Linked DNA regions of Homo sapiens: all the other regions are linked to region 1. Evidence: fine-mapped expression QTL. A gene starts in region 1. Each other region holds a variant in brackets. All regions are shown on one strand. Distances are from middle to middle.

Evidence for each region. PIP is the estimated chance that this variant, and not a neighbour inherited with it, causes the effect.
Region 2: its variant is fine-mapped to the expression of PLIN3 in whole blood (INTERVAL, PIP above 0.99).
Region 3: its variant is fine-mapped to the expression of PLIN3 in whole blood (TOPMed, PIP above 0.99).
Region 4: its variant is fine-mapped to the expression of PLIN3 in whole blood (TOPMed, PIP 0.94).

What each region holds. Positions count from the first base shown.
Region 1 is chr19:4,864,487-4,872,621 of GRCh38, reverse strand. It overlaps PLIN3 (perilipin 3), which reads left to right and starts at 4,955. Exons shown (of 8, transcript NM_005817.5): 1 at 4,955-5,013. RefSeq lists silencers at 2,254-2,333, 2,210-2,374, 4,798-4,977, a cis regulatory region at 2,055-2,541 and enhancers at 5,195-5,695, 5,638-5,987.
Region 2 is chr19:4,893,117-4,901,251 of GRCh38, reverse strand. ARRDC5 (arrestin domain containing 5) reads left to right here. Exons shown (of 3, transcript NM_001080523.3): 2 at 4,376-4,581. Among named protein-coding and RNA genes, the nearest start is that of ARRDC5, 5.7 kb to the left of the region's middle. The variant T/AT (reference allele first, on the strand shown) is at 4,923.
Region 3 is chr19:5,200,999-5,209,133 of GRCh38, reverse strand. It overlaps PTPRS (protein tyrosine phosphatase receptor type S), which reads left to right. Exons shown (of 38, transcript NM_002850.4): 36 at 743-897; 37 at 1,077-1,212; 38 at 2,292-3,626. The coding sequence ends at 2,360. Among named protein-coding and RNA genes, the nearest start is that of PTPRS-AS1, 27 kb to the right of the region's middle. The variant C/G (reference allele first, on the strand shown) is at 3,487.
Region 4 is chr19:4,947,641-4,955,640 of GRCh38, reverse strand. It overlaps UHRF1 (ubiquitin like with PHD and ring finger domains 1), which reads right to left. Exons shown (of 17, transcript NM_001048201.3): 12 at 4,868-5,030; 13 at 4,645-4,782; 14 at 1,153-1,291; 15 at 819-991. Among named protein-coding and RNA genes, the nearest start is that of KDM4B, 17 kb to the left of the region's middle. The variant G/A (reference allele first, on the strand shown) is at 4,883.

The DNA of each region.
Region 1 (8,135 bases):
AACCCTGTCTCTACTAAAAATACAAAAAATTAGCCGGGCTTGGTGGCGGGCGCCTGTAGTCCCAGCTACTTGGGAGCCTAAGGCAGGAGAATGGTGTGAACCCGGGAGGCAGAGCTTGCAGTGAGCAGAGATCCAGCCACCGCACTCCAGTCTGGGTGACAGAGCGAGACTCCGTCTCAAAAAAAAAAAAAAAAAAAAAAAAAAAAAAAAAGAAAGAATTAGGAGTCCTAGAATTGGGAGGGGATGCAGAGGGAAGGAAAGAAGAGAAAGAGTAGAAAATGTCAAAAACAAAGACCTGCTGGGCGCAGTGGCTCATGCCTGTAATCCCAGCACTTTGGGAGGCAGAGGTGGGTGGATCACCTGAGGTCAGGAGTTCGAGACCAGCCTGGCCCACATGGCAAAACCCTGTCTGTACTAAAAATACAAAAATTAGCCGGGTGTGGTGGCGCATACCTGTAATCCCAGCTACTCAGGAGGCTGAGGCAGGAGAATTGCTTGAACCTGGAAAGCGGAGGTTGCAGTGAGCTGAGATCCCACCGCTGCACTCCAGCCTCACTTCCAGACGAAGTGAGACTCTCTCAAAAACAAAACAAAACAAAAAAACCCCAAAACAAACAGAAACCAAAGACCTTAAAGACACATAACTCAAGGTTCAAACCCTGGGGCTGGCAATTTCTGGCTGTGTGACCTGGGGCAAGTTACTCTGCCTCTCTGATCCTTAGTTTCCTGATCCAGAAAACAGAAATCACAGTTGGTTTACCTTGGCAGGCTGAGGTGGGCGGATCACTTTAGGTCAGGAGTTTGAGAGCAGCCTGGTCAACATGGAGAAACCTCATCTCTACTAAAAATACAAAAATTAGCTGGGTGTGGTGGCACGCGCCTGTAGTCCCAGCTACTCGGGAGGCTGAGGCAGGAGAATGGCGTGAACCCGGGAGGCGGAGCTTTCAGTAAGCTGAGATCGCGCCACTGCACTCCAGCCTGGGTGACAGAGCAAGACTCCGACTCAAATAATAATAATAAGAAGAAGTAAATAAATAAATAGCGCCACGTGCTGTGGCTCACGCCTGTAATCCCAACACTTTGGGAGGCAGAGGCGGGTGGATCTCGAGGTCAGGAGTTCAAGATCAGCCTGGCCAACATGGTGAAACCCCATCTCTACTAAAAATTCAAAAAATTAGCCAGGCGTGGTGGTGGGCTCCTGTAATCCCAGCTACTTGGGAGGCTGAGGCAGAGAATTGCTGGAAACCGGGAGGCAGAGGTTGCAGTGAGCCGAGATCGTACGGCTACACTCTAGCCTGGGCGACAGAGCAGAACTCCATCTCGAAAATAAATAAATAAATAAATAATAAAAGAAAATGGGAATCAGGCTGCTGAATAATGTAATGAAATAGCCCAGAAAACAGCAGCTATCTCATTTTTGGTTTTGAGACAGGGTCTTGCTCTGCTACCCAGGCTGCAGTGCAGTGGTGCAATCTTGGCTCACTGCAACCTCCACCCCTCCAGTCTCAAGCGATCCTTCCACCTCAGCCTGTGGAGAAGCTGGGATTACAGGCATGCGTCACCATACCCGGTTAATTTTGTATTTTTGGTAGAGACAGGATTTTGCCATATTGGCCAGGCTGGTCTTGAACTCCTGAGCTCAAGTGATCTGTCCGCCTTGGCTTCCCAAAGTGCTGGGATTACCGGTGTGAGCCACCGGCCAACAGTAGCTATTTCTTTTTTTCTTTTCTTTTCTTTTTTTTTTTTTTTGAAACAGAGTTTCACTCTTGTTGCCCAGGCTGGAGTGCAATGGCACAATCTGGCTCACTGCAACATCTGCCTCCCAGGTTCAAGTGATTCTCCTGCCTCAGCCTCCTGACTAGCTGGGATTACAGGCATGCGCCACCGCACCTGGCTAATTTTGTATTTTTAGTAGGGACGGGGTTTCTCCATGTTGGTCAGGCTGGTCTCAAACTCCCGACCTCAGGTGATCCGCCCACCTCGGCCTCCCAAAGTGCTGGGATTATAGGCGTGAGCCACTGCGCCCAGCCAACAGTAGCTATTTCTTACCTCTCACCCTAGGGCTGTGGGAGGCCAGGCGGGGACTCCTGGGCAGATGTTGCCATCAAGAAGAACCAAAAGCCTGGGAGATGACTCTGTCTCAAAAAAAAAAAACAACAAAAAACGGTGTGGGGCAAAATCACCAGGGCTCATCCCCTAGACCAGAGCTATTTTGTTACTCAAGGCCACTAAGAAGTTAAGGGTTAACAGGCAAATCTCCCACTGACCTTGAATCTTGGATGAGTCACTTCCCCTCTCTGAGCCATCCCAGCCCTCCCCTCCTCCCTCTCTCTCACTCACTGTACTCCAGCCACTGGGGCCTCCTCACTGTTCTAACAGGCAGGGTGTGGTCCTGCCTCAGGGCCTTTGCACGGACTGTGCCTGCTGCCTGGAATGCTGTTCCCCCTAACTGGACATGGTTCCCTCCTGGCCTCTCTCTCTTCTCTTCTTGGATGTCACTCAGAAAGGCCTCCTCTGACCTCCCTACTAAAAACTGCGGCCCCACCGGGTGTGGTGGCTCATGCCTATAACCCAGCACCTTGAGAGGCCAGGGCTGGTGGATCACATGAGGTCAGGAGTTCGAGACCAGCCTGGCCAACATGGTGAAGCCCCGTCTCTACTAAAAAAAAAAAAAATACAAAAATTGGCCAGGCATGGTGGCACAGGCCTGTAATCCCAGCCACTTGGGAGGTCGAGGAACAAGAATTTCTTGAACCTGGGAGGCGGAGGTTGCAGTGAGCCGAGATCGTGCCACTGCACTCCAGCCTGGGTGACAGAGTGAGACTCTTTGACAAAAAACAAGAACAAAATCCCCGCATCCCCCACATTCATCTCGTCCTTTGCTGTCCTACCACGTGACACATTGTAAAGTTCTCTCACTTATGTTGTTCCTTGTTCGTCTCTCCCACTGGGTAGTGTGTGTCACCAGGGCTGGAATTCTTATCTGTTTAGCTCACCGCTGTCCCCAGCGCAAGGACTCAATAAATATGGTTGAATGAGTGAATGAGAAGGAAAAAGCCTGTTACAAATGTCATGGAATGGGGTCTCAGATTCACTTGAGAATCTCACTAGCTGCCTGAAGTTACTTAAATTTAAACATTCAGGCCAAGCGCGGTAGCTCACACCTGTAATCCCAGCACTTTAGGAGGCCGAGGCAGGTGGATCACTTGAGGCCAGGAGTTCGAGACCAGCCTGGCCAATATGGTTAGTCCTCGTCTCTACTAAAAATACAAAAATTAGCTGGGTGTGGTGGCGCGCGCCTGTAATCCCAGCTACTTGGGAGGCTGAGGCAGGAGAACCGCTTGAACCCGGGAGGTGGAGGTTGTAGTGAGTCGAGATCGCGCCATTGCACTCCAGCCTGGGAGACAGAGCGAGACTCTGCCTCAAAAAAAAAAAAAAAATTTAAACATTCAGCTTCTCACTGTGCATTAGCCACGTGGTGCTTTTGGCTACAATGTTGGATGGCACACAATTCTAGAATTGCAGAAAGTTCTATTGGACAGTGCTAGCATAGACCCTGTCCCCACTCACCCCCCCAAAAAAATGCAGTCACAGACACCCAATTTTTCCCATGTTCTTTCTAAAGCTACCAGAAGCTTCATTCTATTCAAATAATTTGGCAGAGGTGGCAAACTGGTGGCCCCTGGGCTGGACAAAGCCCCAGTTGGGTTTCATTTGGTCCAATTGTTCCCTAACAGGCAGGACATGTCTACAGCTTGAACTTCCTGTGGATCTGTGACTCTCCAGGTGGGTCTCCCATAGGGCACTGCTCTCCCCTGCCCCTCTAAGCAGGGCATCACTGCCACCTCCTCAGCAGAAATATTCACCTCCTCCCTGGACCATCTGAGATTGAGACCTTGGTTTATAGACCAAGAGGATAAATAATTTGGGAGGTGGAGAGGGGCGGGGTAAAATCCAAGTGGGGGCAGCTTCAGGAAAAGGTTGATCCAGCAGTCACAGAGCCTGGAGCCTGACCCCTCCATTGCCCCTGGCTGACCCTCTCCAGGCCTCAGTTTCCTTCTCTGCAAAATAGGGATGATTAAAAAGACAATACAGTGCTGGGAGGATGAAGTGGTCTGATGTTGGGCAGATCAGGCCGGAGGCTGGACAAGTTCCCGTGGTGGTTCAAGTCACTCATATAGCTGGGTTGGGCCGGGTGCGGTGGCTCATACCTGTGATCCCAGCAATTTGGGAGGCCCAAGCGGGCAGATCACTTGAGGTCAGGAGTTCAAGACCAACATGGTGAAACCCCGTCTCTGCTAAAAATACAAAAAATTAGCCGGGCGTGGTGGCACGTGTCTGTAATCCCAGCTACTCAGGAGGCTGAGGCAGGAGAATCGCTTGAATCCAGGAGGTGGAGGCTGCAGTGAGCCAAGGTCGCGTCACTGCACTCCAGCCTTAGCGACAGAGCGAGACTGTGTCTCAAAAAAAAAAAAAAAGTGTGTGTGTGTGTGTGTGTGTGTGTGTGTACATATAGCTGAGTCGGAGCCCATGGTGGAGGGCGTGGCCCCTGACGCGCTGGCGAGGGTCACCCTGCAACTCTCCCAGGGTTCTCGCAGCCTCAGTTTGGCCATAGGGGAAATGGGCGACCTGGGGAATCCCAGCACCTGTGCGGCGCCCCCGATCGCACTCACCTCCCAGGGCCAACTTCACAGGGTCCCCAGCTGCGGAGCGGGGGTCCCGTGGCTGGGACAGGCGTGGTCCAAGAGTGCTCCCTCCCCTTCAGGGGCAGGGCGTGGAGTCCTTCCCGGACTTCATGACTTGGCGAGGGGCGGGGCCTAGTGGAGGCGGGGCAGGGAGGAGAGGGGCGGGCCTGGCGCGGGCAATCCCTCAACCTGATTGGTCCCCTCGCCCGTCACTCCAGTGCGCCCCCAACCTACCACGCAGTAAAAGCCACCCCCGCCTCGGCCCGGACGGTTTCCAAGCTGGTTTTGAAGTCGCGGCAGCTGTTCCTGGGACGTCCGGTTGACCGCGGTGAGTGGCGGGGGCGTCTCAGTTGAGCTGGGGGGCGGTGTCCATGGAGTCCTGGGGCACCCCAGGGGCCGGAGGGGTCGGGGAGGGCCTTTCTCGGGGTGGGATTTGCTGGACTCTGCGGCCTGGGGAGGGGTCTTCAGCCCAGGCTGGTCACCCCTCCCCCCAGAAAAATCCAACTTCTGCAACGAAGCTCAGACTTTGAAACCCTCTTCTCACTTCCTGGGACTTTTGAGGGGCGAAAGAGCCCCGTAGAAGGGGTGATATTGAAGGGGGTGGGCTAAATACCGCCCCCCGCCCACCAGGTTTTCTCTAAATTTTGAACAGTTTGCTTTTGGAAACGCCATTTGCAGGCAAGTTTCCTCCTGCGGGCAGAATCTCCGCCCTCCCTTCTGGGGTTTTCAGAGACACCCCCCGCCACCGCAAAGCCCCCTCCCCTACAGATGGTTTTGCCACGGGTGGGGGTGGGGGTTGCCCCAGCTCCTGGCGCCCCCAACTGATTCTGGGGAGGTCTTGGGCAAAGCCTGCCCACTTCCCTCGGGTGGGCGTGGCGACGAGGTGGCTTAAAAGTAGGAAGGCCTATCCGTTAACTGCTTTGGGGTTCTTGTCCCGGCTAGGCCTGGCAGTGGGACCTGGGGCCCTTGGAATTTTGGAAGTCCAGTCTTAGCATGCTCTGAAGTTGCTGGATGGCTGGGTCTGGCCTGGAGCTCCCCTTCTGGAGCCAGCGGCAAGGCAGGTCACTGACCCCCAGGGGTTTCATAGGGTGTTGACATCTGCCATGGCCACCCTTGCTTAAACCAGTTCCAGGAAGTCATGGTGGACAGAGGGGACGGGAGGAAGCTGCCTGAGTCCTAAGTGGGACTTGAGAATCGGTCGAGGCCAGGAGTTTGATGCCTGCCTACCTGGCCCCCTGCCCAGGTGAGCTCAGGCTCCAAAGGAGGTGAGGAGAAGCACAGATTTAGGCAATGATCACTGGGAGGTAGGTATGTCTTCTCACCTGACTTCCCAGTTGGGGGACTTTTGTACCTAGCAGGAAGCTGGTTCCTGGCTGGCTTTACCCCTTTGTCCGTGGAAGCCAGAGTGCGGTGAGATAGTTTATGGAGCACTTACTATGTGCCGGGCACGGATCTGAGCTTCCCCGGAGCAGCGTCTCCTCCAGTCCACAGGGACTCCAGGCTCTTGTGAAACACTTATACACATTTCACAGATGTGGCAAGCAAGACTCCTAGGGGATGCTGCCTTCCCAAACTCCTATTCCTAGTGAGTTGCCAAGCTGGGATTAGAACCCATTCTGGGCTGGGCAGGATGACTCACGCCTATAATCCCAGCACTTTGGGAGGCTGAGGTGGGCGGATCATTTGAGGTCAGGAGTTGGAGAACAGCCTGGCCAACATGGTGAAACCCCACCTCTACTAAAAATATAAAAATTAGCCGGACGTGGTGGCGGGCACCTGTATTCCCAGATACTCTGGAGGCTGAGGCAGGAGAATCGCTTGAACCTGGGAGATGGAGGTTACACTGAACTGAGATCACGCCACTGCATTCCAGCCTGGGCGACAGAGCAAGACTCTGTCTCAAAAAAAAAAAAAGGCCGGGCATGGTGGCTCACGCCTGTAATCCCAGCATTTTCGGAGGCCGAGGCGGGCGGATCATGAGGTCAGGAGATCGAGACGATCCTGGCTAACATGGTGAAATCCCATCTCTACTAAAAATACAAACAATTAGCCAGGCGTGGTGGCGGGCGCCTGTGGTCCCAGCTACTCGGGAGGCTGAGGCAGGAGAATGGCGTGAACCGGGGAGGCAGAGCTTGCAGTGAGCTGAGATCGCGCCACTGCACTCCAGCGTGGGCGACAGGGCGAGACTCCGTCTCAAAAAAAAAAACAAAAAAAAAAAAATGGAAAGAACCCAATCTGGACTCCAGATCTAGTGCTTGCAAAACATCATCATTTTGCTGGGTTCTGCTTAGGGGACATCGAAGCAAGGCCACCAGGAGGTGGGGCCTCATTCCTCTGGGAAAAGATGCTCAGACTCAAGGCCACAGGTTCTTAGGCTCACACCAGAATTCCCCAGGAAAGCAGCCCATAAGACAGGCATGACCTTTAGCCCCATGTTTTTTTTTTTTTGAAACGGAGTCTCCCTCTGTCACCCGGGCTGGAGTGCAGTGGTGCGATCTCGACTCACTGCAACCTCCACCTCCCAGGTTCAAGCAATTCTCCTGCCTCAGCCTCCTGTGTAGCTGGGACTACAGGTGTCAGCCAAAATACACGGCTAATTTTTGTATTTTTAGTAGAGATGGGGTTTCACCATGTTGGTCAGGCTGGTCTCAAACTCCCGACCTTAGGTGATCTGCCCGCCTCAGCCTCCCAAAGTGCTGGGATTACAGGCGTGAGCTACCATGCCTGGCTTTTTCTTTTTTCTTTGAGATGGAGTCTTCCTCTGTCACCCAGGCTGGAGTGTAGTGGCGCAGTCTTGGCTTACTGCAACCTCCGCCTCCCAGGTTGAAGCAATTCCCCTGCCTCAGTCTCCCAAGTAGCTGGGACTACAGGCGCCCGCCACCACACCCGCACCTAATTTTTGTATTTTTAGTAGAGACAGTGTTTCAGTATGTTGGCCAGGCTGCTCTTGAACTCCTGACCTCATGATCCACCCACCTCAGCCTCCCAGCGTGCTGGGATTACAGGTGTGAGCCACCATGCCCGACCCTTTAGCCTCATATTACAGGTAAGATGACCGAGGCCAGAGGAGGGGAAGGCGCCTTGCTCCAGGGAGCATAGCGTAGGTGGAGCTGGGACTCCTGGCTTCCCCCTGAGAATCTCTTCTGATGATGGTGTCCCAGCTTCATTTCACTAGTCCAGGAAAAGGGAGTTGTGGCTTCATCCCGCTTACATAGACTCACCTGGGGAACCCCGTCCTCCCCACACCCCTGACCTGGACTTCATAGCTCTGCGGTGCAGGCAGGCATGTTATCTCACTTTTTAAAAAAAGCCTAAATTTTGGCTGGGTGCGGTGGCTCACAGCTGTAATCCTAGCAGTTTGGGAGGCCAAGGTGGGCAGATCCCTTGAGCTCAGGAGTTCAAGACCAACCTGGGCAACATGGCAAAACCCCATCTACTAAAAAACAAACA
Region 2 (8,135 bases), 29 kb before region 1:
AGCCTCTCTGGCATAAGCGATCCTCTCACCTCAGCCTCCTGAGTAGCTGAGACCACAGGCACATGGCACCATGCTTGGCTAATTTTTGTTTATTTTTTGTTTTCGTTTTTTTGAGACGGAGTTTTGCTCTTGCTGCCCAGGCTGGAGTGCAATGGCGCAATCTCGGCTCACCGCAACCTCCTGGGTTCAAACGACTGTCTCTTAAAAAAAGAACTAGCAATTTTTTTTTTTTTTGAGACTGAATCTCACTCGTTGCCCAGGCTGGAGTGCAGTGGCGTAATCTTGGCTCACTGCAACCTCCACCTCCTGGGTTCAACCGATTGTCCCGCCTCAGCCTCCCGAGTAGCTGGCACTACAGGCGTGTGCCACCACTCCCAGCTAATTTTGTATTTTTAGTAGAGACGGAGTTTCTCCATGTTGGTCAGGCTGGTCTTGAACTCCCGACCTCAGGTGATCCGCCCACCTTGGCCTCCCAAAGTGCTGGGATTACAGGCATGAGCCACCACACCTGGCCATTTTAGACTTTAAAAATTTAGATGAGATGGTCTGTTCCACCAGAGGAGTACTCTGCAAAGAGGGAACAACCAAGCACAGAACTGAGTGATAGGAGGGACTCCAGCCATGCAAATATCCTGGGGACAAATGTCAACTTACCAGACACTAATACTGAGCAATTATGTGACCTCTCTGGCTCTCAGTTAACCAATCTATAAAATGGGAGTAGGAAGAGGTCCTATTTCATAAGATTGTGTTAAGGACTTAATGATTTAATGGCACATAAAGCGCTTAGAATAATGCCAGGTATACAGTAAATGCTTAAAAATTGCTATTTCTGGCCAGGCACAGTGGCTCACACGTGTTATCCCAGCACTTTGGGAGGCCAAGGTGGGCAGATCACCAGAGGACAAGAGTTCAAGACCAGCCTGGCCAACATGGTGAAACCCCGTCTCTACTAAAAATACAAAAAATACAGCTGCTCAAGAAGCTGAGGCAGAAGAATGGCGTGAACCCGGGAGGCGGAGCTTGCGGTGAGCCGAGATCACGCCACTGCACTCCAGCCTGGGCAACAAAGCGAGACTCCGTCTCAAAAAAAAAAAAAAAAAAAAAAGAAAGAAACAGAAAAAAAAGACTGCTGGCCGGGCGCGGTGGCTCATGCCTGTAATCTCGGCACTTTGGGAGGCCAAGGGAGACGGAGGTTGCAGTGAGCCAAGATTGCACCACTGCACTCCAGCCTGGGCAACAGAGTGAGATTCAGTCTCAGAAAAAAAAAATGTTGCTAGTTGTTTTCTTTTCTTTTATTTATTTACTTTTTTGGAGACGGAGTCTCCTCTGTCGCCCAGCGTGGAGTGCAGTGGTGCAATCTTGGCTCACTGCAAGCTCCGCCTCCCGGGTTCTCGCCATTCTCCTGCCTCAGCCTCCTGAGTAGCTGGGACTACAGGTGCCCGCCACCACGCCTGGCTAATTTTTTTTTTTTTTTTTTTTTTTTTGTAGAGACGGGGTTTCACCGTGTTAACCAGGATGGTCTCGATCTCCTGACCTCATGATCCACCCGCCTCGGCCTCCCAGAGTGCTGGGATTACAGGCGTGAGCCACCGCGCCCGGCCGCTAGTTCTTTTTTTAAGAGACAGTCTTTACTCTGGCACCCAGGCTGGAGTGCCATGGCGTGATCTCAGCTCACTGCAACCTCCACCTCCTGGGTTCAAGCAATTCTCCTGCCCCAGCCTCCTGCATAGCTGGGATTACAGGCGCATGCCACTATGCCCTACTAATTTTTTGTATTTTTAGTAGACACAGGGTTTCACCATGTTGGCCAGGCTGGTCTCAAACTTTTGACCTCAGGTGATCTGCCCCACCTCAGCCTCCCAAAGTGCTGGGATTACAGGCATGAGCCACCATGCCCATCCCAGGTTTTTCATTTATTTAATAAACATTTTTTTTTTGAGATGGAGTCTCACTCTGTCGCCCAGGCTGGAGTGCAGTGGCGCGATCTCGGCTCACTGCAAGCTCCGCCTCCCGGGTTCACGCCATTCTCCTGCCTTGGCCTCCCGAGTAGCTGGGACTACAGGCACCCGCCACCACGCCCAGCTAATTTTTTGTATTTTGTTTATTACAGACGGGGTTTCACCGTGTTTGCCAGGATGGTCTCGATCTCCTGACCTCGTGATCTGCCCGCCTCGGCCTCCCAAAGTGCTGGGATGACAAGTGTGAGCCACCATGCCTGTTCCAGGTTTTTCATTTATTTAATAAACATTTATTGAGTGCCTACTGTGCACAAACACCGTGCTAGGTGCTGGGGATGCAGCAGTGATGAAAAAAACACAGCCTGGGCCGGGCACGGTGGCTCACGCCTGTAGTCCCAGCACTTTGGGAGGCTGGGTGGGCAGATCTCCTGAGGTCACAAGTTCAAGACCAGCCTGACCAACATGGCAAAACCCCATCTCTATGAAAAATACAAAAATTAGCCAGGTGTGGTGACACGCGCCTGTAGTCCCAGCTACTTGGGGCGCTGAGGCAAGAGGATCACTTGAGCCCAAGAGGTCCAGGCTGAGTGACAAAGTGAGACCCTGTCTCAAAAAAAAAAAAAAAGGCCAAGCCCGCCTGATGGCTTATGCCTGTAATCCCAGCCCTTTGGGAGGCCAAGGCAGGTGGATTATCTGAGGTCAGGAGTTCGAGACCAGCCTGGCCAACATGGTGAAACCCCATCTCTACTAAAAATACAAAAATTAGCCAGGCATGGTGGTACACACCTGTAATTCCAGCTACTCAGGAGGCTGAGGCAGGAGAATTGCTTGAACCTAGGAGGCGGAGGTTGCAGTGAGCCAGGATCACGCCACTGCACTCCAGCCTGGGTGACAGAGTGAGATTCTGTCTCAAAAAAACAAAAAAGAAAGAAAGAGACAGGGTCCCTAGTATCTTTGGGATTGCCATGGGCCAGAGAAGATAGAAAATGCTAAGAGGATTTTCGAGAAGTGCAAGAAGGAAAATGAAACAAAGGTCATGGAAATGGCAGTTGTGTGAGAGTCTGCTTCCTAGACCATCACTCAGTTGGTCAATCAATATGTATTAAGCACCCACTGTATACCATGCACTGAAGGTCAAGCTCTATGAGGGCGAAAGTTTTCTCTGCCTCACATACTACTTTGTTTATTTATTTATTTATTTTTAGAGATGGCGTCTCGCTCTGTCACCCAGGCTGGAGTACAGTGGCATGATCTCGGCTCACTGCAACCTCCGTCTCGCACGTTCAAGCTATCCTCCCACCTCAGCCTCCTGAGTACCTGGAACTACAGGTGTGTGCCACCACACCCGGCTAATTTTTGTATTTTTAGTAGAGATTGGGTTTCGCCATTTTGGCCAGCTTGGTCTCAAACTCCTGACCTCAGGTGATCCGCCCGCCTTGGCCTCCCAAAGTGCTGGGATTGCAGGCGTGAGCCACTGGGCCCAGCCAGTTTGTGCCTATTATCCCAGCACTTTTGGGAGAGTGAGGCAGGAGGACTGCTTGTGGCCAGAAGTTCAAGACCAGCCTGGGAAACATAGCAAGACCCTGTCTCTACCAGAAATTTAAAAATTAGCCAGGCATGGTGGCATGGGCCTGTAGTCCCAGCTCTTCTGGAGGCTGAGGTGGGAGAATCACTTGATCTCAGGAGTTGGAGGCTGCAGTGACCATGATCACACCACTGCACTGCAGCCTAAGCAACAGAGCCAGACTTTGTCCCTACAAAAAGAAAAAAAAAGATATATTTGTTGAACCCTGAAGGCCTGACTTCCACTTTCTCAGGCTCAGGGCAGGGATATGCAAGAGCCCTTCAGTGGTTTCGGGTGACAACTCCAGGCATGTCACCCACCCCAGGGCATCCCACTCCAGCCCAGCTGCGACCTGATATTTATAGGCCCAGCAGGTCCTAAAAGCATAGAGCTCAGTTTAACTCAGGAGGGACAGACAAGCCAAGCCCAGGACCCACCTCCATGCCAAAACAATAAATCAAGCAAAAAAAGGCCAGGTGCAGTGGCTCACGCCTGTAACCCCAGCACTTTGGGAGGGCAAGACGGGCGGATCGCCGGAGGCCAGGAGTTCAAGACCAGGATGGACAACATGACAGAACCCCATCTCTGTCAAAAATATAAAAATTAGCCAGGTGTGGTGGTGCACGCCTGTAGTCGCAGCTACTCAGGAGGCTGAGGCAGGAGAATCGCTTGAACCTAGGAGGCAGAGGTTGCTGTGAGCTGAGATCACACCACTATACTCCAGACTGGGTGACAGAGTGAGACCGTGTCTCAAAAATAAATAAATATAAAAATAAAGCAAAAAAAAAAAGAAGAAGAAGGAAAAAAGATTCTAGAACCTTCTGATGGCATCGGTGTGTTTTGCTTTCAGATAATTGGTTAAGTGCAGGCAGCCACACCTTTGACTTCCATTTCAACTTACCTCCCAGGCTTCCTTCTACCTTCACCAGCAAATTTGGCCATGTCTTCTATTTCGTACAAGCTTCCTGCATGGGCAGGGAACACATTTTAGCCAAGAAGAGGATGTACTTATTGGTTCAAGGAACTTCCACCTTCCACAAAGAAACCCCATTCCAGGTACCGATGGGGGAAAGGTGGAGGTGGGAACAATCTCCAAGCTCCAAGGAGGAAGAGGGAAGGTGGGCAGGCAGGGGACAGAGAAGGTCCCATGGGGAGAAGGGAAGGGTGTTGGCAGCTTCCCAGGCCCCGAGATTTCACAAAAGGTGAGTCAGAAACCTTAGGGCAGCTGGAGGTCAAGGCTGCAGTAAGCCATGTTTGCACCACTGCACTCCAGCCTGGGCGACAGAGTGAGACCCTGTCTCTAAAATAAAATTATATATATGTGTGTGTGTGTGTGTGTGTGTGTGTGTGTGTGTGTGTGTGTGTAAAAAAAAAAAAATATATATATATATATATAT[T/AT]TTTTTTTTTTTTTTTGAGATGCAGTCTCGCTCTGTCACCAGGCTGAAGTGCAGAGGCATGATCTCGGCTCACTGTAACCTCCGCCTCCCAGGTTCAAGCGATTCTCCTGCCTCAGCCTCCTGAGTAACTGGGATTACAGATGTGCACCACCATGCCCAGCTAATTTTTGTATTTTTAGTAGAGACAGGGTTTCGCCATGTTGGCAAGGCTGGTCTCAAACTCCCGACCTCAGGTGATCCGCCTGCCTTGGCCTCCCAAAGTGCTGGGATTACAGGCGTGAGCCACCATGCCAGGCCAACATTTTTTTTAGAAAAGAAACAAGGGCAGGAACTAAGCCAGTGGTTTTCAACTGTGGCTGTTTTATCCCCATAAGGGACATTTGGCAATGTCTGGAGACATCTGTGGTTGTCTCAACTTGGGGGGTGCTCCTGGCATGGAGTGGGTGGAGGCCAGGGGCGCTGCTCAGCACCCTGCAGTGCCCAGGACGGCCCCACCCAGGAGAATGGCCCAAATGTCCACTTGTCAAGAGGGAGACACGACCCTGGGGAAAAGCCAAGAAAAGGCCCCACAGGGTGACCCTCAGGGTGGGAGAGAGGCATGTACACTCAGTGGCCCTCCAGCACTGACCTTGGAGCTCCCAGACAATAGAGGTGGTGGCCTCAGTCCAGGAGAAGGACGGGCAGTGCAGCCTCCGCTTGGCTGAGTGAAGGACTCGTTCTGGATCCCTTCCCGAGTCCAGGTGCAGAGGCGGAAGTCGAGGTGGGAGGAGGGACGTTGGCCAAAGTCACTTCACATCTCCAGGGAGTCATTTGTCATCAGAGCATTGGGACAGGACGACAAATGTCAGAGGGCTGGCATTTTTTTTCCTTTTTCTTTCTTTCTTTTTTTTTTTTTTTTTTTTTTTTTGAGACGGAGTCTCACTTTGTCACCCAGGCGGGAGTGCAGTGGCGCAATCTTGGCTCAATACAACCTCTGCCTCCCAGCTTCAAGTGACTCTCCTGCCTCATCCTCCCGAGTAGCTGGGATGAGAAGTACCCACCACCACGCCCAGCTAATTTTTGTATTTTTTAGTAAAGACGGAGTTTCCACATGTTGGCCAGGCTGGTCTTAAACTCCTGACTTCAGGTGATCCGCCTGCCTAGGCCTCCCAAAGTGCTGGGATTACAGGCGTTAGCCACCGCTCCTAGCCGGTACCGCTATTAAAAAAAAAATGTAATAGCTCATTTGGAAATAAGGGACATTGGTAGCTCTTGGCACCTCCTGATACCTCCTTCAGGACCAGGACAGAAATACCAGCTTTGTCTGGAGTTAGGGCAGCAGGTTCTTTCACACCTGCAGGGTCCTAACGCATGCTACGAATTTTCGAATAAGACTGCAGGGATTTACAATGTAACCAGATTCAATTAACCTTCAGGAGAGGAGGGGGAGCTCCAGCTGCTCCTGAAAAGGCTGAAGAGAAGCCAGAGGCAGAAAAGTGGGAGGTGAGGTCAGAGGGGGTCAAGGGTCTGCCTGAGTTCTCAAAAAGGAAACATACCTGACTTCCTGCAGTATGATTTTCTTCTTCTTCTTCTTCTTCCTCTTCCTCTTCCTCTTCCTCTTCTTCTTCTTCTCCTTCTCCTTCTCCTTCTTCTTCTTTTTTTTTTTTTTGAGACAGTCTCATTCTGTCGCCCAGGCTGGAGGGCAGTGGCGCGATCTCGGCTCACTGCAAGCTCTGCCTCCCAGGTTCATGCCATTCTCCTGCCTCAGCCTCCCGAGTAGCTGGGACTACAGGCACCCACCACCATGCCCGGCTAATTTTTTTTTTTTTTTTTTTTTTTTGAGACGGAGTCTCGCTCTGTCGCCCAGGCTGGAGTGCAGTGGCGGGATCTCGGCTCACTGCAAGCTCCACCTCCCGGGTTCACGCCATTCTCCTGCCTCAGCCTCCCAAGTAGCTGGGACTACAGGCGCCTGCCACTACGCCCGGCTAATTTTTTGTATTTTTAGTAGAGACGGGGTTTCACCGTTTTAGCCGGGATGGTCTCGATCTCCTGACCTTGTGATCCGCCCGCCTCGGCCTCCCAAAGTGCTGGGATTACAGGCGTGAGCCACCGCGCCCGGCCAATTTTTTGTATTTTTTATTAGAGACGGGGTTTCACCGTGTTAGCCAGGATGGTCTCAATCTCCTGACCTCGTGATCCACCCGCATCAGCCTCCCAAAGTGCTGGGATTACAGGCGTGAGCCACCGCACCGGCTGTCTTCTTCTTCTTCTTTCTTCTTCTTCTCCTCTTTTTTTTTTTTTTTTAGGCAGAGTCTTGCTCTGTCGCCCAGGCTGGAGTGTAGTGGCGCTATCTCGGCTCACTGTAACCTCTGCCTCCTGGGTTCACGCCATTCTCCTGCCTCAGCCTCCCAAGTAGCTGGGACTACAGGTGCCCACCACCACGCCTGGCTATTTTTTTTTTTTTGTATTTTTAGTAGAGATGGGGTTTCACCCTGTTAGCCTGGATGGTCTCAATCTCCTGACCTCGTGATCCACCCACCTCGGCCTCCCAAAGTGCTGGGATTACAGGGGTGAGCCACCGCACCCGGCCTTCCTTTTTGGTTTTTTTTTTTTTTTTTTTTTTTGGAGACAGGGTCTCACTATGTTGCCCAGGCTGGTCTTGAACTTCTGGGCTCCAGTGATCCTCCCCCCTTGGCCTCCCCAAAGTGCTGGGATTACAGGCATGAGCCACCATGCCCAGCCAGCAATGTTTTTCAAATCACAGGTCACAACCCAGTCGTGGGTTGCAAAAATCCATTTGGTGGAATACAAGCATTTTCTTTTCTTTTCTTTTCTTTTTTTTTTTGAGACAGAGTCTCACTCTGTTGCTCAGGCTGGAGTGCAGGGCTGGATCTCAGCCTCACTGCAACCTCAGTCTCCCAGGTTCAAGTGATTCTCCTGCCTCAGCCTCCTGAGTAGCTGGGATTACAGTTGCGTGCCATCACACCCGGCCAACTTTTGTATTTTTAGTAGAGATGGGGTTTCACCACGCTGGCCAGGCTGGTCTCAAATTCCTGACCTCAGGTGATCCTCCTGCCTCGGCCCCCCAAAGTGCTGGGATTACAGGTGTGAGCCACTGCGCCTGGCTATATATATATAATATATATATAATATGTTATATTATTATAATATATTATATATAATAATATATTATATATATTCTAATAATATAATATATATTATATTATTATAATA
Region 3 (8,135 bases), 340 kb before region 1:
TGGATGATGGAAGATGATGGTGTTGGGTGGAACTCGGGACGGCAGAAGGTAGTGAGTTACCAGCAGTGGGTGGTAGCAGTGGCACTGTTATTGGATGGTGGAAGATGATGGTGTTGGATGGTGGACGATGAAAGATGATGGCACCATTGGGTTGTAGAAGATGAGTCATCATTGATGAGCTATGGACAGTGATGGAGTTGAGTTGTGCTGTAGGGCCCCGAAATGGCACAGAGTGGAAGATGACAGAGGATCATGGTGAATAGGAGCTGGGAAGGGCAGAGCTGGTTGCACTATGGGATGGCAAAGGATGGAGGATGGAGGTGCTGGATGTCATACAGGAAATGTGGGGAGAGGAACAGCTGGGTGGCAAGAAGTGGTGAGGATGAGGTTGGAGCATCTCTTATGGAAAGCAGTACCATTGGATTGTGAAGGACGGTAAGTTGTCAGGGTAAATGAATGGCAGAGAGTGTACAAAATGGGGGTGAGGGCCGGGCCTGGTGGCTCATGCCTGTAATCCCAGCTAATCGGGAGGCTGAGGCAGGAGAATTACTTGAATCACTGGAGGTGGAGGTTGCAGTGAGCCGAGATCACGCCATTGCACTCCAACCTGGGCGACAAGAGTGAAACTCCATCTCAAAAACAAACAAACAAACAAAAAATGGGGGTGAAGATAGGGAGGATGGAGAAAAACCCCCATGGCCGCTGCTGACCTGATAACAAGATTGGGCTCTCTGCACTCTAGGATGGCCAGTCCCGGACTGTCCGGCAGTTCCAGTTCACAGACTGGCCGGAACAGGGTGTGCCAAAGTCGGGGGAGGGCTTCATCGACTTCATTGGCCAAGTGCATAAGACTAAGGAGCAGTTTGGCCAGGACGGCCCCATCTCTGTCCACTGCAGGTGAGCTCCCTCGAGTGTCCCAGCTTTTGGCCCTGCTGGGGAAACTGAGGCCTGGTGGGGACAGCCCCAAGCTTAGGCTGTCCCATCTGGGCTGTTAGAGTCCTCGGGGAATCGGGTGGTCAGATCAGGGCTCCCCAGCACCTGCCCCTGAATGGCTGTGCTCACTTTACTGCCACCAGTGCCGGCGTGGGCAGGACGGGCGTCTTCATCACGCTTAGCATCGTGCTGGAGCGGATGCGGTATGAAGGCGTGGTGGACATCTTTCAGACGGTGAAGATGCTACGAACCCAGCGGCCGGCCATGGTGCAGACAGAGGTAAAGATGGGACAGGGAGGGGAGGCAGCCTGGCCTCACGCCCCGACTGCCCCTAAGCTCCAGTTTCCTCCTCTGTGAGATGGGTACAGCCACCTGGGACTCTCTGGGTCACTGTGGGTAGACGGTCCACAGACCCCTCCCGCACTGGAAGGGGACCAGTAACCCTTTTAACACAACAGTCAGCTGAAGGTCAAAGGCGAGAAGTGGCCCTTGGAGTGGACAGAGATGGGCTCATTGCAGTCCCCAAGTCACAGCAAGTCTGTGGCTCAGCCTGGACCCTGCCAAGAACCACTGACCCCCAAGTCCAACCAATGTACAGATGGGGAAACTGAGGCCCAGACTCCTAGCTTCAAGGGGAATGTTCCAGTGGAGGGGGTTCTGAACAGCAGCCATGTCTTAAAAGATGAGTAGAGGGGACCCGGCGTGGCAGCTCACACCTGTAATCCCAGCACTTTGGGAGGCTGAGGTGGGAGGATCGCTTGAGCCCATCCTGGGCAACACAGAAAGACCCCATCTCTACAAAAAAAATAGAAATGAGGCTGGGTGTGGTGGCTTATGCCTGTAATCCCAGCACTTTGGGAGGCCAAGGCAGGCAGATCACCCGAGGTCAGGAGTTTGAGACCAGCCTGGCCAACATGGCGAAACCCTGTCTCTACTAAAAATACAAAAATCAGCTGGGCATGGTGGTACACGCCTGTCATCCCAGCTACTTGGGAGGCTCAGGCAGGAGAATCACTTGAACCCAGGAGACAGAGGTTGCAGGGAGCCAAGATGGCGCCACTGCACTCCAGCCTGGGCAACACAGCGAGACTCCGTCTCAAAATAAATAAAAAAGAAAAGATGAATAGGGCCTCCAGGCAGACGGGAGGAGAGGGCGTTCCGGGTGAAGAGCCTGGCTGTGTTAGGCAGAGAGGTGTGGCATAGCTCACTTCATTGTGGGAGGGCCGTGGGGGCCAAAGAGACCTTCTGCAAGAGACACGCACAAGGCTGAGGAGCTTGGCCTGCTCCTGAGGGCGATAGGGAGCCCTGGGAGGCGTTAGAGCAGCGGAGGTACTAACAGGTCACCTCTGCTCCCCCAGGATGAGTACCAGTTCTGTTACCAGGCGGCACTGGAGTACCTCGGAAGCTTTGACCACTATGCAACCTAAAGCCATGGTTCCCCCCAGGCCCGACACCACTGGCCCCGGATGCCTCTGCCCCTCCCGGGCGGACCTCCTGAGGCCTGGACCCCCAGTGGGCAGGGCAGGAGGTGGCAGCGGCAGCAGCTGTGTTTCTGCACCATTTCCGAGGACGACGCAGCCCCTCGAGCCCCCCCACCGGCCCCGGCCGCCCCAGCGACCTCCCTGGCACCGGCCGCCGCCTTCAAATACTTGGCACATTCCTCCTTTCCTTCCAATTCCAAAACCAGATTCCGGGGTGGGGGGTGGGGGGATGGTGAGCAAATAGGAGTGCTCCCCAGAACCAGAGGAGGGTGGGGCACAGACCATAGACGGACCCCTCGTCCTCCCCCAGCGGTGGTAGGGGGACCCGGGGGGCTCCTCCCCGCTCTGCAGCCTGGGGACACTGGGCTGGGACCAGAATCCAGCTTTCTTTTAAAACTCTCAGTGTAACTGTATCCCGTGACATTTCATTTTTTTTAAATAGTGTATTTTTTTTTCCATTTTTTTTTTTAAGAGAAACAAACAAAAGACTCGCCAGTCAATGACTTTCAAAGAGAACTAACTTTGGCTTATTCATATTCTGTTCAAAGACAGTCTATTTTTTCACTGTAGAAAGCGTCCTTGTGTGATAGTTACGTTCGCAAACGCGCACGCCAGGCCCATGGCTGTACCTTGGCTTTTTTTTTTTTTTTTTTTTTTTTAATTTTTCCTACCATCAGAAAGTGTGCTTTGCTCACAGAAGAATGGGATGTCCTTTTTTCTTTCTTGGCTTTTTTTTTCCCCCTTTTTGTTTCATTTTTATAAATTAAATTTTCAGACATATCAAATACAGTTCTGAGGGTAAGGTCATGGGGGAGCTCGGACCCAGTGGCGTTGGGTGCGGTTGAGGGGGACGCTGCTGTAAGAGGAGAGAGATGACAGTGGTCCTCCTCTGAGAGCCTGAGCTGTCTCCCCGTCTCCCGCCCCCAAGGAGACAGAGAGGATCCTACTTCTTCGGGGACAGTGGCTGTATGGCTGTGCTGCCCCACATCAGGGACCCTTTCCCCCTGGGACTGTGGGGCAGTTTGGGAGCAAAACCAGAAGGACAGGCCCCCCTCTACCCGCCTACCCTGAG[C/G]AAGCGAGTTGTTCCTCTTTGTACAAGGGCAGGTCTGCGGTTACTTTCAACACTGTTTATTCCAGCGGAAGCAGCCGGGTGGTTTTCCCACCCCCGTGTATGTAGATATATCGACTTTGTATTAAAGGAAGATCGTCTGACCCCGGCCCATTGTGGAGTCTTTGTTGCGCCCCTGCCTGTCCAGTTTCATCCCTGGGGTGGAGGTCGGTGGGGTCCTGGAGAGCTGATCTCGTTTCCTTGTGTGAACAGTCAGAGGAGGAGTTGGCCCAGAGAGGTGGTGGTGCTTGTCCAAGACCACACACCGCTGAGGCGGGTGGATCACAAGGTCAGGAGTTTGAGACCAGCCTGGCCAACATGGTGAAACCCAGCCTGGCCAACATGGTGAAACTCAACTCTACTAAAAATACAAAAATTAGCCAGGCGCAGTGGCGGGCGCCTGTAATCCCAGTTACTCAGGAGGCTGAGGCAGGAGAATCGCTTGAACCCAGGAGTTAGAGGTTGCAGTGAGCTGAGATCATGCCATTGCACTCCAACCTGGGTGACAGAGTAAGACTGTCTCAAAAAAAAAAAAAAAAAAAAAACTCAAAACACCGATGAAGTGGCCAGGCCAAGATTTGAACCCAAGCCCTGGTCCTGTAGGGGCTGCCTCGTGTTCTCATTCTAATAAGTGACCATGACTGAGAATTCACCATGGGCCAGACACTCTGAGATAGAAGTTACCAGCCCCTTGGCCAGGCGCGGTGGCTCACGCCTGTAATCCCAACACGTTGGGAGGCCGAGGCAGATGGATCACCTGAGATCGGGAGTTCGAGACCAGCCTAGCCGACATGGCAAAACCCTGTCTCTGCTAAAAACACAAAAATTAGCCAAGCATGGTGGCACCTGCCTGTAATCTCAGCTACTCAGGAGGCTGGAGCAGGAGAATCACTTGAACCCAGGAGGCGGAGGTTGCAGTGAGCTGAGATCATGCCATTGCACTCCAGCCTGGGCGACAGAATGAGACTCCCATCTCCAAAAAAAAAAAAAAAAAAAAAAAAATCCCCATTTACATATTAGGAAACTGAGGCTCAGGGAGGGGCACACAATGAGTTTGAGGTGGAGCTGGGATTCGTACCCCAGCCCATCTCACCCGCAGCCCTGAGCATCACACGGTGCTGCCTTCTCGAAGTGCCCTGGGGAAGAACTGAGTCCGTGGAGGGAAGCAACAGGTTGGGGACACTCTGCTCCACCCCTAGGCCACTCAATGAGCAGATCCATGCACTGAGCCAGAATCACATCCCTGGGGATGGAGAGTGAGCCATTTTGTATCTATACCCTTGCCTGAGTCACTTCTTGCTTGGGCATAGAAGCCACCCACAGGAGCCAGAGATAGGATGAAAGAGCCCCCTATGACCTCAGGGAAGTTCCAGGAATGAGAAGGGGTGATCTTAGTGACACCAGGGACCCAGCTCAGGGAAGAATAGGACTATGTCTCTTAGAAACCAACAGATCAAGGCCGGGCGCAGTGGCTCACGCCTATAATCCCAGCACTTTGGGAGGCTGAGGCGGGCAGATCACGAGGTCAGGAGATGGAGACCATCCTGGCCAACATGGTGAAACACCGTCTCTACTAAAAGTACAAAAAACTAGCCGGGCATGGTGGCAGGAGCCTGTATTCTCAGCTACTTGGGAGGCTGAGGCAGGAGAATCCCTTGAACCTGGGAGGCAGAGGTTGCAGTGAGCCAAGACCATACCACTGTACTCCAGCCTGGGTGACAGAGCAAGACTCCGTCTCAAAAAAAAAAAAAAAAAAAAAAAAAAAGAAGCAACAGATCAGGTAGTCAAAAAAATACAGATGTGACTAACATCATTAATAAGCTTGGCCAAAAATATTTAACAAACCCTATTATCCCCTCCTACTCTAACATTCTCAAACGCACATGGAACATTTGTGAAAATTAACAGAGATCGGCTGGGTGCAGTGGCTCACGCCTGTAATCTTAGCACTTTGGGAGGCCGAGGCAGGAGGATTACCTGAAGTCAGGAGTTCAAGACCAGCTTGGCCAACATGGTGAAACCCCCCGTCTCTACTAAAAATAAAAAACATTAGCTGGGTATGGTGGCACACGCTTGTAATCCCAGCTACTCAGTGGGCTGAGGCAGGAGAATCGCTTGAACCCAGGAGGAAGGAGGTTGCGGTGAGCTGAGATCGCGCCTCTACACCCCAGCCCAGGTGACAGAGCAAGACTTCATCTCAAAAAAACAAACAAAAAATATTAACAGAGATCTTCACAAATTCCAAGAAACAAATATTAGATGAGGTATCCTGATCTTGGCTCTGAAGAGTAATTAGCCTCCCCTGGAAGGGGGAGGGAAATTTTAAAATACTTTTTTTGGCGGGGAGGTGGGTGGGGGACAGAGTCTCGCTCTGTTGCCCAGGCTGGAGTGGCTGAATCTCAGCTCACTGCAACCTCCATCTCCCAGGTTCAAGCGATTCTCCTGCCTCAGCCTCCTGAGTATGTAGCACTACAGGCGCCCACCACCACACCCAGCTAATTTTTTTTTTTTTTTGTATTTTTAGTAGAGACAGGGTTACAGGGTTTCACCATGTTGGCCAGGCTGGTCTCAGACTCCTGACCTCAAGTAATTCGCCCACCTCGGCCTCCCACCGAAGTGTTGGAATTACAGGTGTTAGCCACCGTGCCCAGCCTTAAAACACATTTCTAAATAAGGTATGTGTTAAATCAATGTAATCCGGGCGCAGTGACTCATGCCTATCATCCCAGCACTTTGGGGTGAACATAGGGAAACACTGCCTCTGAAAAAAAAAAAATCAATGTGAAAGTTACAAAGTGTTTCAAATTGAACAATTCAAATAGTACATCATGAAATGCATAACCTGCGGGATGCAGCCAATGGTGTGCTCAGAGAAAAATTCATAGCCTTGAACACATTTACCCTTTTTTTATTTTGAGGTAGGAGGGTCTCACTTTGTTGCTTAGGCTGGTCTTGAACTCCTGGCTTTAAACAATCTTACTACCTCAGCCTCCCAAAGTGCTGGGATTACCGGCACCAGCCACTGTGCCTGGCCTCTTTAACACACTTATAAGAAAAGAAATTTTGAAAATAAGTCAACTTTAAAAAGTTCATGAACCAAGTTTTCAATCAAATCACTAGAAAATAAACTCAAATAGAAAAAAAAACCCCAAATAAAAAAAAATGAAGATAAAGATGGAAATAACTTTTTTTTTTTTTTTTTTTTGAGACAAGAGTTTCACTCTTGTTGCCCAGGCTGGGGTGCAATGGTGGATCTCGGCTCACTGCAACCTCTACCTGCCAGGTAAGAGTGATTCTCCTGTCTCAGCCTCCCAGGTAGTTTGGATTACAGGCACCCATCACCATGCCCGGCTATTTTTTTTGTATTTAGTAGAGATGGGGTTTCACCATGTTAGTCAGACTGGTGGTGAACTCCTGACCTCAGGTAATCCACCCGCCTTGGCCTCCCAAAGTGCTGGGATTACAGGCGTGCGCCCCTGCACCCAGCCTGGAAATAACTCTTAATTGGGCATTTTGATATGGCTCTTTTGCATTGACAAGATCAAAAACCTTTTCTTTGAAAACTCCAAAAACCTTAGGCAAAGATAATAAAAAAGAGAAAGTACAAATAATATCAGAAAAGTGGGGATAGAACACTTTAGAGATGAAACCTTTTTTTTTTCTTTTTTTTGGTAAGATGAGTATTGGGAGAGCCAAGGAGGAAACAGACAGGGGCAGTGGAGGCTACCGGTAGCAGAACTGGTATGCAAAAAATCCCCTTCTCTCCCTCCATAGGATAGTTGTAAGAACAGACAGTGAAGAGAGAAAAAGATGGGGAAGCTGGGTGCAGTGGCTCACACCTATAATCCAAGCACTTTGGGAGGTTGGGGCAGGTGGATCACCTGAGGTCAGGGGTTCAAGACCAGCCTGGCCAACATTGTGAAATCCCATCTCTACCAAAAATACAAACATTAGCAGGGTGTGGTGGTGCATGCCTGTAATCCCAGCACTTTGGGGGCTGAGGTGGGCGGATCACTTGAGCCCAGGAGTTCAAGATCAGCCTGGGCAACATGGCAAAGCTCCATCTCTACCAAAAATACAAAAAATTAGCCAGGCATGGTAGCACACACCTGTAGTCCCAGCTACTCTGCAGGCTGAAGTGGAAAAATCACCTGAGCCCAGGAAATCAAGGCTGCAGTGAACTGTGATCATTCCACTGTACTCTAGCCTGGGTGATGGAGAGACCTTTCTCAAAAAAAAAAAAAAAAAAAAAAAGAGAGAGAGAGAAAGAAAATAGTGAAGTGATAGTAAAGATCTATGCCCCATACAAGGCACCTTCCCAGATAGTTTTCCAAGTGAGTTTTGCCAAATCCGCAAGGAAGAGATGATTTGCACCTTTTGTCAACTGTCAGCTTATGAGGTGAAAAAAGAGATGGTACCTAAACTGTACGAGGACAAACTAAGGAGGAAAAAAGCACATTCCACTTATGTGCCTAGATGCAAAAAGGCCAAGAAAATTTCAGCAATGGAAATCTAACATCTCATTAAAAGAATACAATGTTATGACTCAGACAGATTTATGGAATGCAAGGATAGTTTGACTTTAGAAACTCTGAGTGAGAACAGATTGGTGC
Region 4 (8,000 bases), 83 kb before region 1:
GGAGCTGGGGAGAAAGCCCTGGGAAGAATGTGGCCTGAAGGAAATGGGAAGAGAGGGACCACTGAGATGGCCTCGGCCACAGCTGAATCCTGAGACCTGCACCATCCTGAGACGTCACCATCCACAGCAGAGGAGAAATGGCAGGTGGGACTGAGTGAAGGACCTGGAGCTGGGAAAGCATCCTGGGTGAGGCGGGGGGCCTGATGTCACCCCGAGGTCCTCCCGAGAGAGGGCGGGAGAGTGAGACTCAGAGACTGGAAGAAGATGCGCTGTGGCTGTAAAGGGGGAGGAAGGGGCCCCGAGCCGAGGGATACAGTGCCTCTAGACCTTGGGAAAGGCAGAAATCTGGTTCTCCCCTGGAGCCCCCAGGAGGGCCCAGCCCTATCCCTGCCCTGACTTTAGCCCAGCAAGGCCCATGTCGGGCTCCCAGCCCCAGAGCTGTGAGATGTGAGTCGCTTTGCACTCCTAGGCTTGGGGTCACTTTGCAACAGCCCCGGGAGACAGAGACAGAAGGTAGGATGGCAGGGGGTGCCGGAGCTGGGGAGCGGGTGCAGGGGCTGGGGAGCAGTTGCCGGGGCTGGGGAGCGAGTGCCAAGGCTTGGGAGGGGGTGGGAGTGACAGTTTCAGGGCCAGGGTTTCAGTCTGGGGAGAGGATAAAGTTCTGGAGGTGGTGATGGTGGTGATGGTTGCACAACCACAAGAATGTACTCAGTGCGACTGAGCTGTACACTTGAAAATGGGGAACATGGGAAACAAGCCCCACACATTTTACCGCAGTCAACGCAAATCAGGGCGACGAGTGAGCCGTGCGAGCCTACCGGGCTGCCGCTCGCCGGCCGGTCCTTGAGTGACGCCAGGACCTCATTCCACAGCTTGGCGTTGCTCTTGTCCTCTCTGATGAGGCTGCTCTGCTGGGCCGTGAGACTGTAGGGCTCCACCTTGGTTTTCTTGGATGTCCGGCGCGGGGACCCGGCCCTGCTCGGGCCACCTCCTGGAAGAGGGTGGGGCGCGTGAGGGAGGGGCGCGTGGCCCGAGCTGCCGGAGAGACAGCCACCGGCTCCCACGTCCACACGACCTCAACCCCACACCCGCGAGATGCCCACCTGCTCCCCCACACACAAGACGCTCACCCCACACCCACGAGATTCTCACCTGCCGACTTCCGCTTCCACTTGCCCTTGCCCGTCCTGGGGGACGCGAAGCCCCCCTCCTGCTGCTCCTCCTCCTCCCTCTTGCTGTTCTCCTTCTCTCGCTCTCGGTTGGCCAGGGCTTCCAGGTAGCCTTCTGGATACTTCAGGAGGAAGAGGGACAGCCGTGAGTCAGGCTTGGGGCCCACACGCTATGCAGAGCCCGCTCTTCCAGCCTCCTTGCCAGGTCTGGGTTTCCAGACACACCTGACCCCCAATCCCCCTGAAGAGCACAGGGTAGTCCTCCCTTATCTAGTTTTGCTGAGGTTTCAGTGACCCAAAGTCAACTGAAAATGTTACATGAAATATTCTAGAAACAATTCCTAAGTTGTAAACTGCACACTGTTCTAAGTGTCCAACGTCTAGAGGCGCTGCATCCCTCGGCTCGGGGCCCCTTCCTCCCCCTTTACAGCCACCTCACATCACGCACACTGCATGATGAAACATTGCATCGTCCCACAGGGATGTGAACCTTCCCTTTGTCCAGCTTCTCGATTCTCCTGCCTCAGCCTCCCGAGTAGCTGGGATTACAGGTGCCCGCCACCACACCCAGCTAATTTTTGTATTTTTAGTAGAGATGGGGCTTCACCATGTTGGCCAGGCTGGTCTTGAACTCCTGACCTCAAGTGATCCACCTGCCTCAGTCATCCAAAATGCTGGGATTACAGGCTAAATATAAAATATTAATATTAAACATTCTAATTTTTATTAAATAAGCCCAACACTTTGGGAAGCCAAGGCAGGGGGATCGCTTGAGCCCAGGAGTTTGAGACCAGCCTGGGCAACATAGCAAGATCCCCTCTCTACAAAAAAATTTAAAAAATTAGCCGAGCCTGGTGGTGTGCATCTGTAGTCCCAGCTACTTAGGAGCCTGAGGCAGGAGAATCACTTGAGCCCAGGAGTTTGAGGCTGTAGTGAGCTATGATCACACCACTACACTCCAGCCTGGACAACAGAGCGAGACCTGGTCTCAAAAATAAAAATAATGGCCCCAAAGTGCAAGAGTAGGGATGCTGACAATTTGGAAATGCTAAAGAGAAGCCTAAGATGCGAAAGAGAGGTTGTGAATCTCATACTGTGCCTAATTTATAGATTAAACTTAATCACCAGTCCAAACGTATGGAAAAAAAATTATACATCAACGGTTTGGTACTCTCTGGTTTCAAGCATGTGCTGAGGACCTTCGAAGTGTCCCCCTGGTAAGGGGGGGACGCCTGTGCATTCAGCTCTTCGTTAACTGTGGAGCCTCGACCAATGGCTAATCCTGTCTAATCGCAAAGCTTCACTACGAACAAGAGGAGACTAAGAGGAGATAATCGGCCAAGCTCCACCTGGCAGGGTCGGGGTAAGCGCATTTAATGTGAGCGAACGCGGGTGACGTGTTCAGCATCACATCCCACCAATAAGATCTCGTTGTCTTTACGATTTCCATGAGGGCAGGCAAACTTTTGCTTCCAGGGACCCTAGGGTGAATGTTTTCAAGCCTTATGGGTCTGGACTGCAAGCGCTGAGAGCAGGCTACTTCAGTGAATGAGCATGACTGTTTCCCCAGAAACTTCACTTACGAACACCTGACCCCAGGGCCTTAGCTGGCCAAACTCTGGTGATTCTGAGGACTCGGGCCCTCTCTGTCCTCACAGGGCATCATCGCTCCATTTCGAAGGTACCTATAAGTCACGTCTGACTCTCCAGTGTCTCAGGAAATCTTTGAGCTCCTTTCACATTCTTTATGTTACAATGGAGATGAGAGTCATAAAAAAAAAAAAAATCCTGGCCAGGGTCAGCGGCTCACACCTGTAATCCCAGCACTTTGGGAGGTGGAAGCAGGTGGATCACCTGAGGTCACCAGCCTGGCCAACATGGCGAAACCCCGTCTCTACTAGAAATACAAAAATAGCTGGGCATGGTGGTACACACCTGTGATCCCAGCTATGCAGGAGGCTGAGATGAGAGAGTCGCTTGAGCCTGGGAGGTGGAGGTTGCAATGAGCCGAGATCATGCCTGCACTCCAGCCTGGGCGACAGAGTGAGACTCTGTCTCCAAAAAAAAAAAAAAAAAAAGGCTGGGAGCGGTGGCTTACGCCTGTAATCCCAGCACTTTGGGAGGCAGAGGCGGGTGGATCACCTGAGGTCAGGAGTTCAAGACCAGCCTGACCAACATGGTGAAACCCCGTCTCTACTAAAAATACAAAAACTGAGCCAGGCGTGGTGGTGGGCACCTGTAATCCCAGCTACTCAGGAGGCTGAGGCAGGAGTATGGCTTGAACCTGGGAGGCAGAGGTTGCAGAGAGCCGAGATCCCACCACTGCACTCCAGCCTGGGCGACAGAGCAAGACTCCATCTCAAAACAAACAAACAAAAAAAATCCTACTCCCAACAGAAGCTGAGGCTGTCTCTCCCATTACTATTTTTCTCTCTACTTCCTCAGCTTCTGAAATTCCCCACCGTACAAATCCATTCAAAAGACAACCTGAGTGACCCCCTCGGGTAGAGGACATCAGGCTCTCGACAGCAATTAAGATTCCTTAAATAGTCTCACGATTCGTCTGCTGTAAAGCTTCTCCCTGCAATGGACAGACCACATCCTAACTGGTGCTGAAATGCTGCGCCGCTTGTTGAGTAAGTTCTCGGCAGTTCCCATCGCCACAGGGAGGTGAGAGATGGCTCGGGGATATTCATCTTCCCCATTTTTCCGTCCAGATCTCTCTGGAATCCACCAATTTGGTTGGTTTGTTTCTGCTTTTTTTTTTTTTTTTTTGTGATGAGCCAAGAAGTGAAAACAGAAGACACCAGATGCCTGACTGGTCTGCAGCGATCCCTTTACCAACAGAACGAAGACAAGCAAGTCTGGTTTTCAACTCTGAGATGCGGCAGGCGGAGAAGCAAATGTCATCTGCGCGTTCCCATCACCCCCTGGCTGGAGGATTTATATGGGACAGCTAGGGGGGTGCCATCAGCTGGGGCCCTGGAAATTATTCTGGATCAGAGAGAAACCAGGGAAGCATGGGCCCGAGACGGGAGGCCTCCTGGAGTGTTCAGCGCGGTCCAGAACATGAGCACCACAAGCCCAGGCAGGGCCCATTCTGTGACCCACAATGACCTTCAAGGATGACAGCCTCCAAGCAGGACACATGGTGCCCAGGCGGGAAGTGTCAGAGCCGTCATGGAGCCCGGCAGTGCTCCTGTTTTGAGATGGACTCTCATTCTGTCACCCAGGCTGCAGTGCAGTGGCGCAATCTCAGCTCATTATAACCTCCACCTTCTGGGTTCAAGCAATTCTCCTGCCTCAGCCACCTCAGTAGCTGGGATTACAGGCACCCGCCACCATACCCAGCTAATTTTTGTATTTTTAGTAGAGATGAGGTTTCACCATGTTGGCCAGGCTGGTCTTGAACTCCTAACGTAAGTGATCCATCCGCCTTGGCCTCCCAAAGTGCCATCCCCCATCCCAGACACACCTGCATGGTCAGCCCCAGCTTCTTGATCCGGTCCTTCCCCTCCTTCGTCCAAGGGCCAGGCTCATCATCGTCCCTCCGCAGAAGGTAGCGCCACACGAGAAACCCGGACTTCCCCTTCTCGGGCCAGTATTTCACAACCTGCAGAGAGCGGGCATCAGCGTCAGCTCCATCAGAGGCAGCCCCGGCGGGGACAGAGCCCCCGGCCTCCTCAAGGGGCACTCACCTTGTAGATGCCATC[G/A]TAGCGGTTGCCCTCAGCGGGGGCGTACTTGCTATTCTTGCCACCCTTGACATTGCGCACCACCCTGACCGGCTTCCCCGACCGCCAGTCCTTGGCCTCGGCCCCTTCTTGGTCATTGATGGGAGCAAAGCAGTTGAGAGCCAGCGCCCTGCAGGGAGAGTCAGGACCCCACGCATTATAGGTGAGGATGTACCCCCCAAAAAAGGAAACACAGGAGCCGGGAGTGGTGGCTCAGGCCTGTAATCCCAGCACTTTGGGAGGCTGAAGTAGGCAGATCGCCTGAAGTCAGGAGTTCGAGACCAGCCTGGCCAACATGGTGAAACCCCGTCTCTGCTAAAAATGCAAAAGTTAGCCGGGCGTGGTGGCGCGTGCCTGTAATTCCAGCTACTCAGGAGGCTGAGGCAGGAGAATCGCTTGAGTCTGGGAGGCAGAGGTTGCAGTGAGCCGAGATTATGCCACTGCACTCCAGCCTGGGTGACAGAGTGAGGTTCTGTCTCAAAAAAAAAAAAAAATTTAATATTTCAAAGTTATATATGTATAATTTATAAAATAGGCCACACCCAGCCTACTATTTATTTGAGACAGGGTTGCTAGGTGCCGTGGCTCACGCCTCTAATCCCAGTACTCTGGGAGGCCAAGGCAGGAGGATTGCCTGAGCCCAGGAGTTCAAGACCAGCCTGGCCAACGTGGCAAAACCCCATCTCCACAAAAAAAAAAAAAAATAGCCAGGCGTGGTAACATGCACCTATAGTCCCAGCTACTCTGGAGGCTGAGGTGGGAGGATCAGTGGAGCCCAAGGAGGTGGAGGCTACAATGAGCTACGATCACACTGCTGCACTCCACCCTGGACAAGAGAGGGAGACCCTGCCTCAAAAAAAACAAAACAAAGCACACACACATATAAAAAAAAAACAAACAAAAAGAGAAAGGGTGTCTCACTCTGTCACCCAGGCTGGAATGCAATGGCATGATCACGCCTTACTCACTGCAGCCTCCTGGGCTCAAGCCATCCTCCCACCTCCGGCTCCCAAGCTGGGACTATAGGCCCACACGACCATAACCAGCTAACTTTTTTGAAATTCTTTTTTGTAATTTTAATTTTTCATAATTTTATGTTGCACAAGTAGGTCTCAAACTCCTAGCCTCAAGCAATCCTCCCACCTCAGCCTCCCAAAGTACTGGAACGACAGGCATGTGACACACCACCCATGGCCCATGTCTTTTTTAGGTACTTAGTTACTGACTTTGTGAGAGTGTGTGTGTGTGTGTGTGTGTGTGTGTGTGTCTATGTGCCAATTGTTTTAGATAATGGTATGAAAAACATTACATCTTACATTTTTACCTAGCCAGAGGTCTCCTAAAGACATTTTTCAAAGCGGAGTTAGAGTGACAAGAATAGATCATTTATAAAGCTCTTCATACAAACAGGCAGAAGAGATTTCCAGAAAGATGGTTCCAATTTGTATTTCTACCAACAGTGGAATGCTATTTTACCCCTGACCTATGTCAACATTTTAGAATTTTTGGCCAACTTTATAGGGGAAACAAATAGTATCTCACCACAGCCTCAGTTTGTATTTGATTACAACTTTGCACTTCTTTTGTGCATTATTTCCATATTCTCTTTTTTTTTTTTTGCTCTGTCACCCAGGCTGGAGTGCAGTGGAGCAATCTTGGCTCACTGCAAGCTCCGCCTCCCAGGTTCATGACATTCTCCTGCCTCAGCCTCCCGAGTAGCTGGGACTATAGGCACTTGTCACCATACCAGGCTTTTTTTTTTTTTTTTTTTTTGTATTCTTAGTAGAGATGGGGTTTCACCATGTTAGCCAGGATGGTTTCGATCTCCTGACATCGTGATCCGCCCACCTCAGCCTCCCAAAGTGCTGGGATTACAGGCGTGAGCCACCACGCCTGGCCTCTTTGCTTTCTTCTACGAGTTTCTTTCTTTCTTGAGATAGAGTCTCACTCCTGTTACCCAGGCTAGAGTGCAAGAGTGCAATGGCATGATTTCGGCTCACTGCATCCTCCGCCTCCTGGGTTCAAGCAATTCTGCCTCAGCCTCCCAAGTAGCTGGGATTACAGGTGCCTGCCACCACACCCAGCTAATTTTTGTATTTTTAGTAGAGACAGGGTTTCACCATGTTGGCCAGGCTAGTCTTGAACTCCTGACCTCAGGTGATCCACCACCTACCTCGGCCTCTCAAAGTGCTGGGATTACAGGCGTGAGCCACCGCACCCAGCTCTTCTATGAGTTTCTTGTTGATTTGCAACAGCTCTTTATATGATAAAGACACTATCATCATGTGTCATGTCAAGAACTCCTCCTAGTCATCTGCCTTTTAATTTATAGGATTTATTTATGTAATATATTTATAATGTTTAGATAATCAAATCTGTCTTTTCCTTTGGGCTTTATGATGGTTTTTATGCTGGAAAAGTCCGCCCCCATCCTGTAATCAGGGGCCAAGCAAATTCTGGCCTATCACATACTTTTGCAAATAAAATTCACTGAAACACAGCCATGCTCACTCACTTACATATGGTCTATGGCTGATTTTGTGCTACGACACAAGAGCTGAAGAGGTTCTCTGAATAGACTGTGTGACCTGCATAGCTGAAGCAATCTATTTTGGAGGGGTTTTTTTTTTTTTTTTTTTGACAAGATCTCAGTCTGTTGCTCAAGCTGGAGTGCAGTGGTGCAATCTCAGCCCACTGCGGCCTCAACCTCCTGGGCTCAAGTGATCCTCCTGCCTCAGCCTCCTGACTAGCTGTGACTATAGGCACATGCTAACACACCCAGCTAATTTTTTTATTTTTACTTTTTGTAGATGGGTTGTCTCACTACCTTGCCCAGGCTGGTCTTGAACTCCTGAACTCAAGGTATCCTCGAGCCTCGGCCTCCTGAAGCGCGAGAATTACAGGCGTGAGCCACCAGGCCCAGCATTAAGATACCTACTATCAGCCAGGCGCAGTGGCTCATGCCTGTAATACCAATATTGGGAGGCCGAGGAGGGAAGATCACCTGAGGTCAGGAGTTCGAGACCAGCCTGGCCAACATGGCAAAACCCCATCTCTACTAAAAATACAAAAATTAGCCAGGCGAGGTGGCAAGCACCTG